2 separate regions of the Homo sapiens genome follow, and region 2 is linked to region 1. Evidence: fine-mapped expression QTL. Tissue or cell type: whole blood. Region 1 holds a variant in brackets; the other region holds the start of a gene. All regions are shown on one strand. Distances are between the middles of the regions.

Region 1 (8,109 bases):
TTGAGGAACTGCCATATTGTTTTCCACAGCAGCTACACTACTTTACATGCCCACCAGCAGTGCACAAGGGTTGCAATTTCTCTATACCCTCACCAATACCTGTTTTCTGTTTCTTTTTCTTTCATAATAGCTATCCTAATGGGTGTGAAGTGATATTGCATTATGGCTTTGATTCATATTGCCCTAATGATTTCCTAGTGATGTTAAGTATCTTTTCATGTGCCCATTGGCCACTCATATATCTTCTTTGGAGAAATGTCCATTCAAGTCCATAAAGCAACCTTGTATTTTATTCTTTGTTAACTCTACAAATGATACCATATTAATGTTTTTAAAAATTGATGTTTTCAGCAATCACCACATCTATCTAGCAGCATAAAACAGTTCAAATTTCAGATCCTTTTTTTTTAATTTTTCATTTTTTGTAGTACTAGTATGCAAGCTTCTTTACAAAGAAAAAAATACCAACCTAGCTACTTTGGGATCCTGTTCAGCTCTGTGCTTGTAGATCTACACAACCACACAGACAATTAAGTGTAGAAGGCACTCTATCATGTCAGATGATACAGAGCTACACTGTCCAATATAATGGCTATAAACCTCATATAATTATTGAGCACTTAGAATATGGCTAATCCCAATTGAGATGTTTTATAAGTATAAAATTTACATCAGATTTCAAAGATTTAGTGATATGGTTTAGCTGTGTTTGCACCCAAATCTCATCTTGAAGTATAATCCCCATAATCCCCACGTGTTGTGGGAGGGACCCAGTGGGAGGTAATTGAATCATGGGGTCGGTTTCCCCCATGCTGTTCTCATGATAGCGAGTGAGTTCTCATGAGATCTAATAGTTGTATAAGCATCTGGTATTTCCCCTGCTGGCACTCATTCTCTCTCCTGCCACCCTATGAAGAGATGCCTTCCACCATGATTGTAAGTTTCCGGAGGACTTCCCAGCCATGTGGGACTGTGAGCCAATTAAACCTCTTTTCTTTATAAATTACCCAGTCTGGGGTATTTCTTCATAACAGCATGAAAATGAACTAATACACTTAGTATTTTATAAGTAATGTGAAATATCTCAATAGTTTTTAAACTGATATGTTAAAATAATATTTTAGATGTACTGAGTTCAATAAAACATGTAATTAGATTTAATCTCACCTGTTTCTTTTTACCACTTTAATGTGGCCATTGGAAAATTTTAAATGACATATGTGACTCTGATTTATGGCTCACATTCTGTTTCTATTGGACTGTAGATATAAATAATTGTGACTAAGTAGACCACTTCTATGATTGTGGATACACAAGTTAACTCAGAATTAGAAAATTTTCCATGTAATTCAAATTGTTTTTCAAAAACAAATTCTTTTCATTATTAGTATATTATATTGTCCAGAATTATCTAGGTGAATGCCATTATTCTATATTCAAATTTTTTAGTATAAACACTGCCTCTTGCATTTAAGTTTACCTCATGGGAATTTCTATGCCTGTTCAGAAATAAATTGTTGGAAACTCTTTTTAGTATAGTGGTAGAAGGGCAAAAAAGAGACAAACTCTCTCCATCAAGCCCCTTTTTTAAATATCATTTCAACTTTTATTTTAGATTCAGGGAATACATGTGCAGGTTTGTTACATGGGTATATTGTGTGAGGTTTGGGATACCAATGATCCCACCACCCAGGTAGTAAGCATAGTACCCAACAGGTAACTTTTCAACCCTCGCCCTCCTCCCTTTCTCCCTTCTAGTAGTCCTCACAGTCTACTGTTCTCATCTTTATGTCCATGTGTACCCAATGCTTAGCTCCCACTTATAAGTGAGGACATGCAGTATTTGATTTTTTGTTCCTGAATTAACTCACTTAGGACAATGGCCTCCTGTTGCATCCATGTTGCTGGAAATGACATGATTTCTTTATTTTATGGCTGCATAGTATTCCAAGATGTATATGTACTACATTTTCTTTATCCAGTCTACCACAGATGGGCATCTGGGTTGATCCCATGTCTTCACTATTGAACATACTAGTATGTGTCTTTTTGGTAGAAAAAATTTATTTTCCTTTGGGTACATACCCAATAATGGAATCACTAGGTCGAAAAGGAGTTCTAAGTTCTTTGCAAAATCTCCAAATTGTTTTCCATAGTGGCTGAAATAATTTGCATTCCCACCAGCAGTGTATAATCATTCCTCTTTCTCTGGAGCCTCACCAGCATCTTTTTTTTTAACTGTTTAATAATAGCCATTCTGACTAGTATGAGATGGCATCTCATTGTGGTTTTGATTTGTATTTCTCTGATGAGTGATGTGAGCATTTTTTCCTATATTTGTTGTCCGCTCATCCAGCCCTTTTATAATGGCATTAATCCATTCATAAGGGTAGAGTCCTCATTACCTAAACACTTCCCAAAACTCCCCACCTCCCAACACTATTGCACTGCAGATAAAGCTTTCAACACATGGGTTTTGGAGGACATATTCACATTATAGCAGTGAAGGACACAAAGGAGGGCTAAGATTATTAATTTATTTAAAGATAATTTTTAAAAACTGAGGCAAATCAGTCATGGTGTTAAATTTATGTGACAAAAAATATTTTGTCAGTATTATTTGAAGTATTTTCTAATTTTATTGATATAAAATCAAACTTATATTGGTAAATTCTCTTTCCCTTCTAACTTGTAAGAGCAAGTTATTGTTAAGAAATAGAAATAATTACAAGCTACACTTTTTCAGTCAGACTGGTAATACATTTTCTTTCAGCCTATTATCTGAGAAATGTTATGAAATCTTCAAACCCAATATTAACTAGATTTGTCTTTAAGATATATTTTGCAAACAACAATCAACTTTTGATTCAGGGAAGTTTCTCTAAACTTTCTTCTTATTCAAGATATCTGCTTCTGTCACAGCCTTCTTTCTTTCACTGCTTTCTGCAATAATAAGATCATCCTATAAGCTCCGTGAGCTGAAAATAAATGTATTCCTGAGGTAATCCTCTCTGGTCCCAGGTTTCTAATTAAAACATGGTACTCTGGTGTGCCTCTATTTATAATCAGAGAACTAAGAATTTATTGACAAAGGCTCTCCATTCCCTAATGCCCCCAGCCCTCCACACACAATTAAAATAAATAAATAAGATTTTTTTAAAGCAACGGGAGGCAGGGTGTTTTGAAAGTGTTTAAAATAACTGTAAATGTTCATGCATGCCAGTACCAACACACTTCACACCTCTTTGCTTTTTATTGCAACAGCACCTTTCACCAGGGAATCTGAAATTCTTTAGACATTTACACTTCACCTCACCAATGCACACCGACTTTGCTAGATCTCGCATTTCCTACTCAATTGCTGCTCAACCTGTCTCTCCATTTCTCTCCCTTCACCTTCCCTTCCTCTTACCTACTTCAAATTCAGTGTGCCTGAGCCTGAGTCTTAGCATAACAGAGAAGCATCTCTCCTCAGTTGGAACATCCTGAATCCAAGACAATGTTTATAAGTTCAGAATTGATTGAATTGTGAATGTTTTACATTATCTGCATTTTAAAATCTATCCTATGTCCATTAAGTAAATAGATTATATAATCAGCTGCTGATTTAATTATTTTGTTAGTTGTTACATTGGCATCGTGAAGCTCTTTCAAAACCTTCTGCAGTGGTTCCACCAAATCCTAATATCAAGTACATACTGAATTTACAAACAATTCTAAAAGAAAATTAATCAAAAAATCCTTGTGGTTCCATACATTGAAACAGAATAAACACAAAGCCCTTTGTACACAAGGCTGCCTTCCTAACCAACGCTTAGTGCAAGTAGGTGAACTACTTTAATTACCCAGAAAATTCCTTTTTAAAATGTGATTGCTATATTTGAAAGAAAAAAAATAACAATTTACAGATCTTAGTACTCTAAATACAATGTTTTGTGAAAACAGGTAAGTTTTATGTTTGTGGATTAACCAGGCTGGTTTTTAAATTGTACTCTACAGATCAGAAGCGATCAGTGAGAACCTCTCTTTCTACATGTAGTGCTGCCGCTGGGAAGAAATCGGTCATCATGAATATTCATTGGACACCACCAAGTGCTACACCAGACTGAGATGGAGAAGGAGAAAGAGAAATGGTCCATCAAATTAGAAGAAAAGCCCTTTTCATGATTTATGAAAAAGAGAACTATTAAACCTTATGCACTACAAGATTTTATGTCTTTTATGTCAACCTATGAATAACTTTTCCTCTGCAATATTCCAATTTTATTTTCCCTTTAATAATACAACTTTTAAGTACTAAGGATACATAAGATACTTTGTATTAATGATGCTTAGTCAGTCATGGATGCCTGACTTATTAAGGAATACTCAAAATATTCAAATATTTATGTTAGTAAATCTGCTTCAGACTACAAGGAAGAGTTGCTATCTGACTGCTTATGCAATGCTGCTCTGTCCACTACC[T/A]TCCTGTCTTTTTTTAAATTAGGTTCTATTGCCCAACTTGCCTGTTTTAAACATTTAGCCAATGTCCTTGAAGTGTTTTCATCATTATCAAGTAAAAATCTGAAAATGAGAATAGTATTAGTATCTACAGCTCTCTATTTTTGTCTTTAACTTATCATGCACCTATTTTGTGCTATTATATATATTCAGTATCTTGCATATAACCTTATTTAAAGAGTATAGCATCATTGTAAAGCAGATACATTAAGGTGTCTGTTTTACAGATGAAGAAATCGAGGTTCAGCAAGGACTTGCTCAAAGTCACACAACTGGCAAGTGACAGAGACTGGATATGAACTGAGTCAGACTCCAAATTTTGACTCAAAAAAGACACTACCTTTGTGCTCTATAAAGTGCATTCATTAGGGCCTTTATCATGCCAGTCTGTCAGCAATTGTGTTCCCCCTGGCTCGGAGCCTTTCCTCCACACTTCAATCAAATAGAAATCCCTCATTGCAGTTGAGAACTAAGTGGAGTTACTGGCCCAAAGCATTCAGGTTAGCTCTATGGATAGTTTCCAAGTTGACCAAATCGTAACTGACCTGTTGAGAGACACAGGTGATTCAGGAGATAATTTTTTTCATACTATACTGGGAGGTGAATGGTAAAAAATACCATAGGATGAGGGAAACAAGGGGAAAATGAACAAAAACGATATCCATTATAACTACATAAAAAGAAACTGGCACACCAAACATCAGTGTTATTATGAAGAACTATTCACCATCTGAATCTGACCACAGTTAGAAAACCTGCCACATCACAAGCGCCTTGGATAATAAAAACATCTATTTCAAATGTTTTCCTAAAAAGCATTTTGAAAGAATAAATAAGATTTCAAAATAGAAAAAAAAATCTAACTGCATAAACTGAACACAATGCTGAATGCTATCCTCATCCAAACTGTCTTTCCTTTATCTTACTTATCACCTTCAATATACAATAAAAGTTCAGCCACAAAATCAGCTTAGAAAGGAGAATTACCTGGCCTAACTGCATAGATTGATTTGATAGTGAGATACTTTCCTGCAAAGACATTTATGTGTTATCTGGAAGAACTTTTAGCTCTTCATTTTAAGTTTTACCAGCGATTGATTTATTATAGGAAAAAGATTCAATTTTTCCTCTTATGCTCAGCAATGTGATTTTTTTAAGAAACAACAAGGCGAGCATGAGAGTTCGTGTCTGTAATCCCAGCACTTTGGGAGGCTGAAGTGGGTGAACCACTTGAGCCCAGGAGTTAAAGATCAGCTTGGGCAACATGGTGAAACCCCATCTCTACAAAACACTTAGCTAGGGGTGGTGGCACATGCCTGTCATCCCAGCTACTTGAGAGGCTGAGGTGAGAGGATCATCTGAGCCCAGAAGATCAAGGCTGCAGTGAGCCATGATTGTGCCACTGCACTCCAGCCTGGGTGACAGAGATAAGAGCCTGTCTCAAAAGAAAAAAGACAGGTTCAGTTCAAATAGGAAATCAGCATCTGTGGTTTCAGCTGGATTTCCCAAGTTACAGGGTTCACCTTCTGAATATGCTGCTATTCTTCCTCTTTTTGACGTTTCTGCACTTCCTAAGATCTCTAGCCCATAATCTTGCTCTAGAGACTACCATCTTTGAAACCTAACTCTCTCGTACTCTTACATACATTTTTGGTTTAGATGCTCATTGCCTAACTCTCAAACTAGAACTCTTGTTCTTCTTGAGCAAGAAATCTTTTCCTTCCTATTTACTTTTGTTTTTCCAAAAGCTGGCACAAAATTAGCACTTAAAAATAACTTTTGGCTAGCTGACTATTTCAAGAGTTCCAAATGACTTGGACGGAGACACAATTTTAAGTCATCAAAGGTCCATGACAACATATAAACATTGGACTGTTTCAAGATGGAGGTCTGACTGGTGGTTTTTCTTCCCTTTTTTGGTGCAATAGAATTTATATATTTAAACATTAGGTCAGTTACCTAAAATAAGTTAAACATTAGACCAGTAACCTAGAAAGAAAACTTGTTTTGAGGTTGCTAGTAATTTGGGTTCCAAGTTTAATGAGCCAATAAATCAAATGCTAAAGAACAAGATGATTGAATTTGAGAAGACAGTAGAAATAAGGATGTACCCCTTAGAGAAACAAAGAGTTCCCCTAGATAAACAGAAGAAATGGACAAGGAGCAATAGAAATGGGGCAGTGAGTACAAGGCAACCTACAAAGTCTGGAAGTAGTCCTTAGGAAGTTGTTCAAGGAAGGTAAAGGGCCACAGCCTGATAGGAGTTGAAAGAGTAACTGACAAAGGACCATTAAGCCCAGAAGCTGACTAGAAAGTGAGTTGCTCAGGCAGAATGCCCAGCCCTTACTCTCAGCAAGAATGTCCCATTTTGTGTGCCCAGCAATGACACCAATTGTTCTTATTGACCTACATGCTCAGAACTTCACTTCGTTATCATCCAGCACCTCAACCACTGATTGCCCTGTGTGGACTATTTTCCTTAAACCTCATCAGCTTGTGCTAATGTACTCCAAGAAAGGGAGGTGGGACTGTGGACATCTGGTGGGTAAGGAAAATTATCAGCATATCTGGCAGGTAGGAAGAATTATTGGTACATCTGTACTGTGTGGGATGAAATGAACAAAGGGTGGTAAGATCCCTACTCTACTGGCATCAAAAACAGTTGAACCATCTATTCTCAAGTGTGGAATCCTTGAGGCTTTCAATGTAACAATGTCTTTGCAACTTCCTAGTGAGGCTACTCATCAAACATGGTAGTTTAAATATACCTGCTTTATTCTATTCCATCCTAAAATATCACCAGAATAATAACAGAATAGTAAAGGGGATAACAACAGATAAGAGATATTATAATTTTGGAAGACAGAAAGTAGATGGGCCAGTGTTAACTAGCAAAGCAGAGGAAATGAAACCTAAGTGCGTGGAACTGGGAAGCCACTATACAAGGAAGCTAGTTGGTGCTCCAGAATCCCAGGAAGCATGAGGAATTTGAGAAACTGCTTACTACAGAGGGTGAAGGGTGAAGAGTGGGACTAAAAACAAGAGTGTGGCTGAAAACCTATATAGAGGACAGTTATCTTCCCACCCTTTCACCCACCCCATCCAGCCAGAAAACTTCTCATACACTATTTCATCAGGAAAGGAGAGGTTTACTCTAGATAATTAAACCATCGATCTCCTTCTCCCTATCAACTTGTAAAATACTAGAAGTCGGAAAATTGGGGAATTCTTTTCTGGAGAGCTTGATCAGCTCAAGGGAAAAGAACTAATATTGAGAGCTGGGTGTCTTCTCCCACATAAACTACTAGATCTTTGCCCAATCAATAAGCCCAGCCAGATTTTAGTGTCTCAGTCAGATTCTTAGTGCCTCACTCTTTAAATACAAACAGTAAGCCAAGCATGTTAGCCTTTTGAGGAAAGCTTCAACATGAAAGACCTAAACAAACAAACAAAAATTTTAACAAAAACAGAACTCAGCAAAGAAAAGCAATATGGAGAGAAGCAGCAGTCATTTGTAATAAATAACCTCACAGGAATTAAGAGAGCATTACAGTCATAAAACAAAGTCAGGATGCTATGTTTCAAAAAGAAAATTCAGTGAACAATAAA
Region 2 (8,109 bases), 90 kb after region 1:
CAATCACAAGGATTAATAGCAGAATAGACCAAGTGGAGGAAAGAATTTCAGAGCTTGAAGACTGTGTTTCTGAAATAAGACAGGCAGACAAGACCAGAGAAAAAAGAATGAAACAGAATGAACAAAACCTCCAAGAAATATGGGATTTTGTAAAGAGACCAAATCTACAACTGATCAGTGAACCTGAAAGAGATGGGGAGAATGGAACCAATTTGGAAAACATAATTCAGGATATTATCCATGAGAATTTCCCCAACCTAGCTAGAGAGGCCAACATTCAAATTCAGAAAATGCATAGAACCCCAGTAAGATACCCCATGAGAAGCTCATCCCCAAGACACATAATCTTCAGATTCTCCAAGGTTGAAATGAAGGAGAAAATGTTAAAGGCAACTAGAGAGAAAGGCCAGATCACCTACAAAGGGAAGCCCATCAGACTAACAGTGGACCTCTCAGATGAAACCCACAAGACAGAAGAGATTAGGGGCTAATCTTCAACATTTTAAAAGAAAAGAAATTCCAACCTGGAATTTTATATCAAGCCAAACTAAGCATCATAAGCGAAGGAGAAATAAGATCCTTTTCAGACAAGCAAATGATGAGGGAATTTTTTTTACCACCAGACCTGCCTTACAAGAGCTCCTGAAGGAAGCACTAAATATAGAAAGGAAAGATTATTACCAGCCACTACAAAAACATACTGAAATACACAGACCAGTGACACTATAAAGTAACCACGTAAGTCTTCAAAATGACCAGTTAACATCATGACAGGATCAAATCCACACATATCAATACTGACCTTAAATGTAAATAGGCTAAGTGCCCCAATTAAAAGACACAGAGTGGCAAGCTGGATAAAGACCCATAGGTACGCTGTCTTCAAGAGACCCATCTTACATGCAATGAGACACAGAGGCTCAAAATAAAGGGATGGAGAAAAATCTACCAAGCAAATGGAAAACAGAATAAAAGGAGGGGTTGCAATCCTAGTTTCTGACAAAACAGACTTTAAACCAGCAAAGACCATAAAGGACAAGGAAGGACATTACATAATGGTAAAGGGTTCAATTCAACGAGAGGAAACAACTATCCTAAATATACATGCACCCAACACAGGAGCACCCAGATCTATAAAGCAAGTTATTAGAGACCTTCAAAGAGACTTAGACTCCTACAAAATAATAGTGGGAGACTTTAACACTCCACTGACAATATTAGACAGCTCACTGAGACAGAAAATTAACAAAGATATTCAAGACCTGAACTCAGCACTGAAGCAAATGGACCTGATAGATGTATATGGAACCCTCACCAAAAACAGAATCTACATTCTTCTTGATGCCACATGGCATTTACTCCAAAATTGATCACATAATTGGAAGTAAAACACTCCTCAACAAATAAATGCAAAAGAACTGAAATTCATAATAAACAGTCTCTCAGACCACAACACAATCAAATTAGAACTCAGGATTAAGAAATTCACAGCCAGGCACAGTGGCGTGAGCATAATTCCAGCACTTTGGGAGGCCAAGGTAGGCAGATCACCTGAGGTCAGAAGTTCAAGACCAGCCTGGCCAACATGGCAAAACCCCATCTCTACTAAAAATACAAAAATAGCCAGGTGTAGTGGTGGGCATCTGTAATCCCAGCTGCTTGGGAGGCTGAGGCAGACAGAACTGCTTGAACCCAGGAGGAGGATGTTGCAGTGAGCTGAGATTAAGCCATTGTACTTTAAGCTGCATGACAGAGCAAGACTCCATCTCAAAAAAAAGAAAAGAAAGAAAGAAATTAATTCACTGAAAACCACACAGCTACATGGAAATTGAACAACCTGCTCCTGAAGGACTTCTGGGTAAACAATGAAATGAAGGCAGAAATCAAGAAGTTCTTTGAAACTAACAAGAACAAAGATACAATGTACCAGAATATCTGGGACACAGCTAAGGCAGTATTAAGAGGGAAATTTATAGTGCTAAATGCCCACATCAAAAAGTTAGAAAGATCTCAAGTTAACAACCTAACATCACCACTAAAAGAACTAGAGAACCAAGGCCAAGCAAATCCCAAAGCCAGCAGAAGAGAAGCAATAACCAGAATCAGAGCTGAACTGAAGGAGATAGAGACATGAAAAACTATTCAAAAGATCAATGAATCCAGGAGCTAGTTTTTGGAAAAAATTAATAAAATAGATAGACCACTAGTTAAACTAATAAAGAAGAAAAGAGAGAAGATTCAAATAAACACAGTCAGAAATGACAAAGAGGATATTACCACTGAACTCACAGAAATACAAACAACCATCAGAGAATATTATGGACACCTCTATGCACATAAACTTGAAAATATAGAAGAAATGAATAAATTCATGGACACACACACCCTTCCTAGAAAAAAGGGATAAATTCCCGGACACACATACCCTCCCAAGACTGAACCAAGAAGAAATTGAATCCCTGAGTAGACCAATAACAAGTTCTGAAATTGAGGTGGTAATAAATAGCCTACCAATCAAAAAAAGCCCAGGTCCAGACAAGTTCACAGCTGAATTCTAGCAGATGTACAAAGAAGAGCTGATACAAAGGCTAGACACAGTGGCCCACACCTGTAATCCCAGCATTTTGGGAAACCAAGGTGGACAGATCACTTGAGCTCAGGAGTTTGTGACCATCCTGGGCAACATGGCAAAACCCCATCTCTACAAATAATACAAAAAATTAGTAGAGCATGGTTGTGTATGCCTATAGTCTCAACTACTTGGGGGGGCCAGGCAGGAGTTTGTGACCAGACTGGTTGACAAAGTGAGACACTGTCTCAAAAAAAAAAAAAAAGAAGAAGAAGAAGAAGAAAGAAAAAGAAGAGCTGGTACCATTTCCATACATCTTCTGAAGTCTAGGCAGGGGGTCTCAAACCTCAGTTCTTGACTTCTGGGCACCCACAGGCTCAAGACCACATGGAAGCTACCAAGGCTTGGTGCTTCCACCCTTTGAAGCAACAGCCCAAGCTGTACCATGGCCCCTTTTAGTCAGGGCTGGAGTGGCTGGGACACAGGGCACCAAGTCCCTAGACTGCACACAGCACAGGGACCATGGGGCTGGCCCACGAGAGCATTTTCTCCTAGGCCTCTGGGCCTGTAATGGGAGGGGCCGCCATGAAGACCTCTGATATGCCTTGGAGACATTTTTCCCATTGTCTTGGGGATTAACATTTGGCTCCTCATTACTTATGCAAATTTCTACAGCCAGCTTCAATTTCTCCTCAGGAAACCGGTTTTCTTTTTCTATCAAATTATCAGGTTGCAAATTTCCCGAATTTTTATGCTCTGCTTCCCTTATAAAACTGAATGCCTTTAACAGCACACAAGTCACCTCTTGAATGCTTTGCTGCTTAGAAATTTCTTCAGTCAGATACCCTAAATCATCTCTCTCAAGTTCAAAGTTCCACAGATTTCTTGGGCAGGGGCAAAATACCACCAGTCTCTTTGCCAAAACATAACAAGAGTCACCTTTGTTCCAGTTCCCAACAAGTTCCTCATCTCTATCTGAAACAGCCTCGGCCAAGACCTTATTGTCCATATTGCTATCAGGCTTTTGGTCAAAGCCATTCAACAAGTCTCTAAGAAGTTCCAAACCTTCCCACATTTTCCTGTCTTTTTCTGAGCCCTCCAAACCATTCCAGCCTCTGCCTGTTACCGAGTTCCAAAGTCACTTCCACATTTTCAGGTATCTTTTCAGCAGCACACCACTCTACTGCTACCAATTTACTCTATTAGTCCATTTTCTTGCTGCTGATAAAGACATACACAAGACTGGGCAATTTACAAAAGAAAGAGGTTTATTGGACTTACAGTTCCACATAGCTGGGGAGGCTTCACAATTATGGCAGAAGGCAAGGAGCAGCAAATCACATCTTACATGGATGGCAGCAGGCAAAAAAAAAAAAATGACCCTGTTCAGGAAAATTCCTGTTTTTAAAACTGTCAAATCTCGTAAGACCCATCACTATCATGAGAACAGTATGGGAAATACCCACCCCCATGATTTGATTATCTCCCACTGGGTCCCTCCCACAATACATGGGAATTATAGGAGCTATAAGATGAGATTTGGGTGGAGGCACAGAGACAAACCATATCACATGGAATCAACCTATATGTCCACCAACAGTAGACTGGATGAAGAAAATGTGATCAATATACACCATGGAATACTATGCAGTAATAAAAAAGAAAGAGATATGTCCTTTGCAAGAACACAGATGGAACTGGAGGCCACTATCCTTAGCAAACTAATACAGGAACAGAAAACCAAATACTGCCTGTTCTCATTTATAAGTGGGAGCTAAATGATGAGAACACATGGACACACAGAGAGGAACAACACACACTGGGGCCTTTCAGAGGCTGGAGGGTGGGAGAAGGAAGACAATCAGGAAAAATAACTAATAATTAAATAACTAATGGGTATTAGGCTTAAGATCTGGGTGACAAAATCTGTACAACAAACTCCCATGACACAAGTTTACCTATGTAACAAACCTGCATTTATACCCCTGGACTTAAAATAAAACTTTTAAAAAATAAACAAATGATAATAGCAGATTATAGCCCATTAAATAAACTAGGAATTCATGAGTTCAAATTACATAAACAAACAAATAATTATTCCTTACATAAGAATGCTAATTACTGTATGCAGAAGGAAAGGTAGAATTGGAAGGTCATTATTTGGCAACTATTATAGTAGTAGTTGATTGAAGAAGAAAGCATCAAATGATGCTGAATCTGAGTGAAGGTTTGATGACAACCAACATGGTCTCAAATTATCTCCCCACAAAGTGCTGTTAACTGCAAAGGGGAGATGAGTTACTTTGCAGTCATAAATGTTGTATCACTGGGCACAGTGGCTCATGCTTATAATCCTAGCATGTGGGAAGCTGAGGTAGGCTATTTTCTTTTAGTAATTTCATGGCTTGTGGTCTTAGATTTAAGTCTTTAATCAATTTTAATTTGACTTTTGTATATGGCAAGAGATAGGGGTCTAGTTTCATTCTTCTGCCTATGGATATCCAGTTTTCCAAGCCCCACTTATTGAAGAGACTGCCTTTTCTCCAACATATATTCTCGGTACCTTTGTTGAAAACAAGTTTACTGTAGATGTATGAGTTTGTTTCTGGGTTCTCTATTGTGTTTCATTAGTCTATGTGTCTGTTTTTATGCCAGTACTATGCTGTTTTGGTTACTGTAGCCCTGTAGTATAATGTAAATGACAAGTTAACCAGTGCAGCACACCAACATGGCACATGTATACATATGTAACAAACCTGCACATTGTGCACATGTACCCTAGAACTTAAAGTATAACAAAAAAAAAGAAAAGAAAAGAAAGGAACAGAGGAAAAGGAGGAAGGAAGGAAGGAAGAAAGGAAGGAAGGAAAAGAGGGAGGGAGGGAGGTTGTATTAAAATGAGAAAATTGATTAGTTCACAAATTATGCATTAAAAGGCCCACAGTTTACTAGATCTATAAATTCCTCAGAACCCCTAAATACATTGGCTTTTTAGAATAAGTGTTAAATACACACACACACACGAACACACACAACCCACAATACAACTGATGTGGCCTTGTGGAAGGAATACGTAAAGCTATTTGCATTATAGTGCTAATTTAGCTTTTCTTTACATTGAACCTTAATAACCAGAATCTGCTTCTTTGTAACTTCTGTCCATTTATCCAGTTTCCACCCAAGGAGAGAGAGCAAGTCTCATTGCTCAACTATTCTAAATCTGCCACCACGATCCCCTAAATCTTTTCCAGGCTGAACACTCCAGATTTCTTCTACTCTTCCTTAACTGATAGGACTTTAGTTCTCTTGGCTGCTTTTCTCTGAAGTATCCCATTTTGTCTGAGACAGTACTGTGACGGTACTATGATACCTCTGAAACAATAGTATGGTACCAGTGTCTGAGCAGAATGGACTGGCACTCACAAAACCAGATATTGTATTTTCAGTAGTGCACCCAAGGGTGATACTATTATTTATTTCTTTTATGGAATTTCCAGCTGGAGATGCAGTCTGGCATGTGCTATGAAAACAATCACCAATTTCTGCACTTGATTAGTCTGCCCGTCGCCTCAGCCATTGTCAGCCACATTGCGTTATTCGAAAATGCATTGCAATGTATTTAGAGTTATGAAGTCTTAGAGTTTGTACTTGATTCTGTAAATAAATTATTATTATGGCTATTAAAACTTTTTAAAAGCAAATTCTCCTCACCTGCTCTTCTTTTCCCAAATTAATGAGCTTTCCTGGAGATGTTTAATCTCAGAAGTTCATCCTACAGTATGCAAGATTAGTCACTGCAAGGTAATGTTACATTTCATATCTGAGGTCAGAATAGTATTATTTGGAGCTGTTGCAAAATTTAGAAGATGAACTGATTTAGTATTATTTTTAAGATTAGAATCAAACAGAAAAATCTTTGCTTCGGACTGAATTAAGAAACAATATACAAACTAGCAATATGACAACATCAAACCAATGTATCACTATATCATTTTAATTATGTAAGAAATAAAACAGCTAATGTTTGTTTACTGTTTCATATGTGCCAGGGATAATTCTAAATGCATTATGTCTATCATCTCATTTAATCCTTAGAATATGGATGAGGAAATGAAAGCCCAGAAAAGTTGCCATGTCACACAGCTAGTGGGTAACAGAATCAAGATTTGAAACCAAACTGTCAATGTTGAACCCATACCACCTCGTGGTTCTCATTAGCTGCAGTCAAAGACACTCTGGCTGGAAAATCCAGGGGCAGTGAGGACATGGAGTGTGTGGAAGCAGGCTTCCTGTGCTACTGGCAGGACTGTCAGCTAGTACAAGCTTTCCAAGGGAAATCTGGCATTCTGTTTCAAAAGCCTTACCATTTATTCTGCAGAAATTGAACAAGTGTCAAAATATGTCTTCTGTAAGGTCAACTGAGGAAATGTAAACAATAACAAAAAAATTAAAATGACCTACTGTTCAACACAGGTGATTTGGTAAATAAACGGTGATACATCATAGAATGAGGTTATTGCACAGCCATTAAAATTATGATTTAGCTGTGTAAAGACAAAAAAGGTATAGACACAGCTCAGTGAAAATTCATGTATAAAACAGAATCTAAAATGTGTTATTGTTTATAAAAATGTACACATAACATTTATATATATATACTCATTTTTAAAAGCTCAGAAGTATGTAGACTAAAATGAAATCAAAAACGTATTTCTGCATAGTTATATTAACAGTTGTTTTTCCATTGTAATTACCTGTATTTTTTCACTTGTCTACATTAAGCATGTATTATTTTAGAGAAAAATACAAGTTTAATTCCTATTTTTAATGATAGATTTAAAAATAATGACTAATAAGATACATACTATCTATTAAATAAGAAAAGAATAATTCGAAACAGAATAACGTGATCTCATCTTTGTAAAATCTGTACAGTTTATTTTAATAGTATAGTATATTATAAAAGTACACTTTTTGTATTTAAATATATTACATTATAAAAATGCTGGTAAGTTCATCCTTATCTCCAAATAGTAAAGGATGGATTTTATTTTACTTCATTTTGCTTATCTATATTTTTTATTGTATACTGCTTTTATAATTAAAATGTGTTAATTTTAAATAATCTATTATTAGTAATGAATATTGATGAGTTGTATAAAAAAGAGAGTTCAAAAATTACATAACCACAGCAAAAAAAAAGTACTAGCATTCAAAATGGCTTAAAGAAATATAAGTTGTTAATTCTCACCAGCACTCAGAGACTTGTCCACCACAGTTCCCAGGGAAGATTAAAATTAAAGCACTTAACATAACTTCAAAATATGAGGATCCCAGCAAGCAACCCTGAAATGCTCTTAGTATAGCAGACACAGGGAAAGCCATCAATGTGTTTCTTTCTGGAAGGTTTATTTTAATGACAAATGGAAACATTATAACTTACATTGTATCTTTCTTATCGTGTGAAAGGAATTAATACAATAATAGCCTTAGTACTTATTAAATTATACCCTGAAATTTCTCCATAATATAAAAGTTAA

The links. PIP is the estimated chance that this variant, and not a neighbour inherited with it, causes the effect.
Region 2: it holds the start of LINC00639, and the variant in region 1 is fine-mapped to the expression of LINC00639 in whole blood (INTERVAL, PIP above 0.99).

Annotation. Positions count from the first base shown.
Region 1 is chr14:38,822,629-38,830,737 of GRCh38, forward strand. The region is part of intron 4 of LINC00639 (long intergenic non-protein coding RNA 639); the gene reads right to left. Among named protein-coding and RNA genes, the nearest start is that of LINC00639, 90 kb to the right of the region's middle. The variant T/A (reference allele first, on the strand shown) is at 4,465.
Region 2 is chr14:38,912,932-38,921,040 of GRCh38, forward strand. LINC00639 (long intergenic non-protein coding RNA 639) reads right to left here and starts at 3,951. Exons shown (of 5, transcript NR_039982.1): 1 at 3,851-3,951. It overlaps LOC105370457 (a long non-coding RNA gene), which reads left to right. Exons shown (of 5, transcript NR_135256.1): 5 at 6,067-6,270.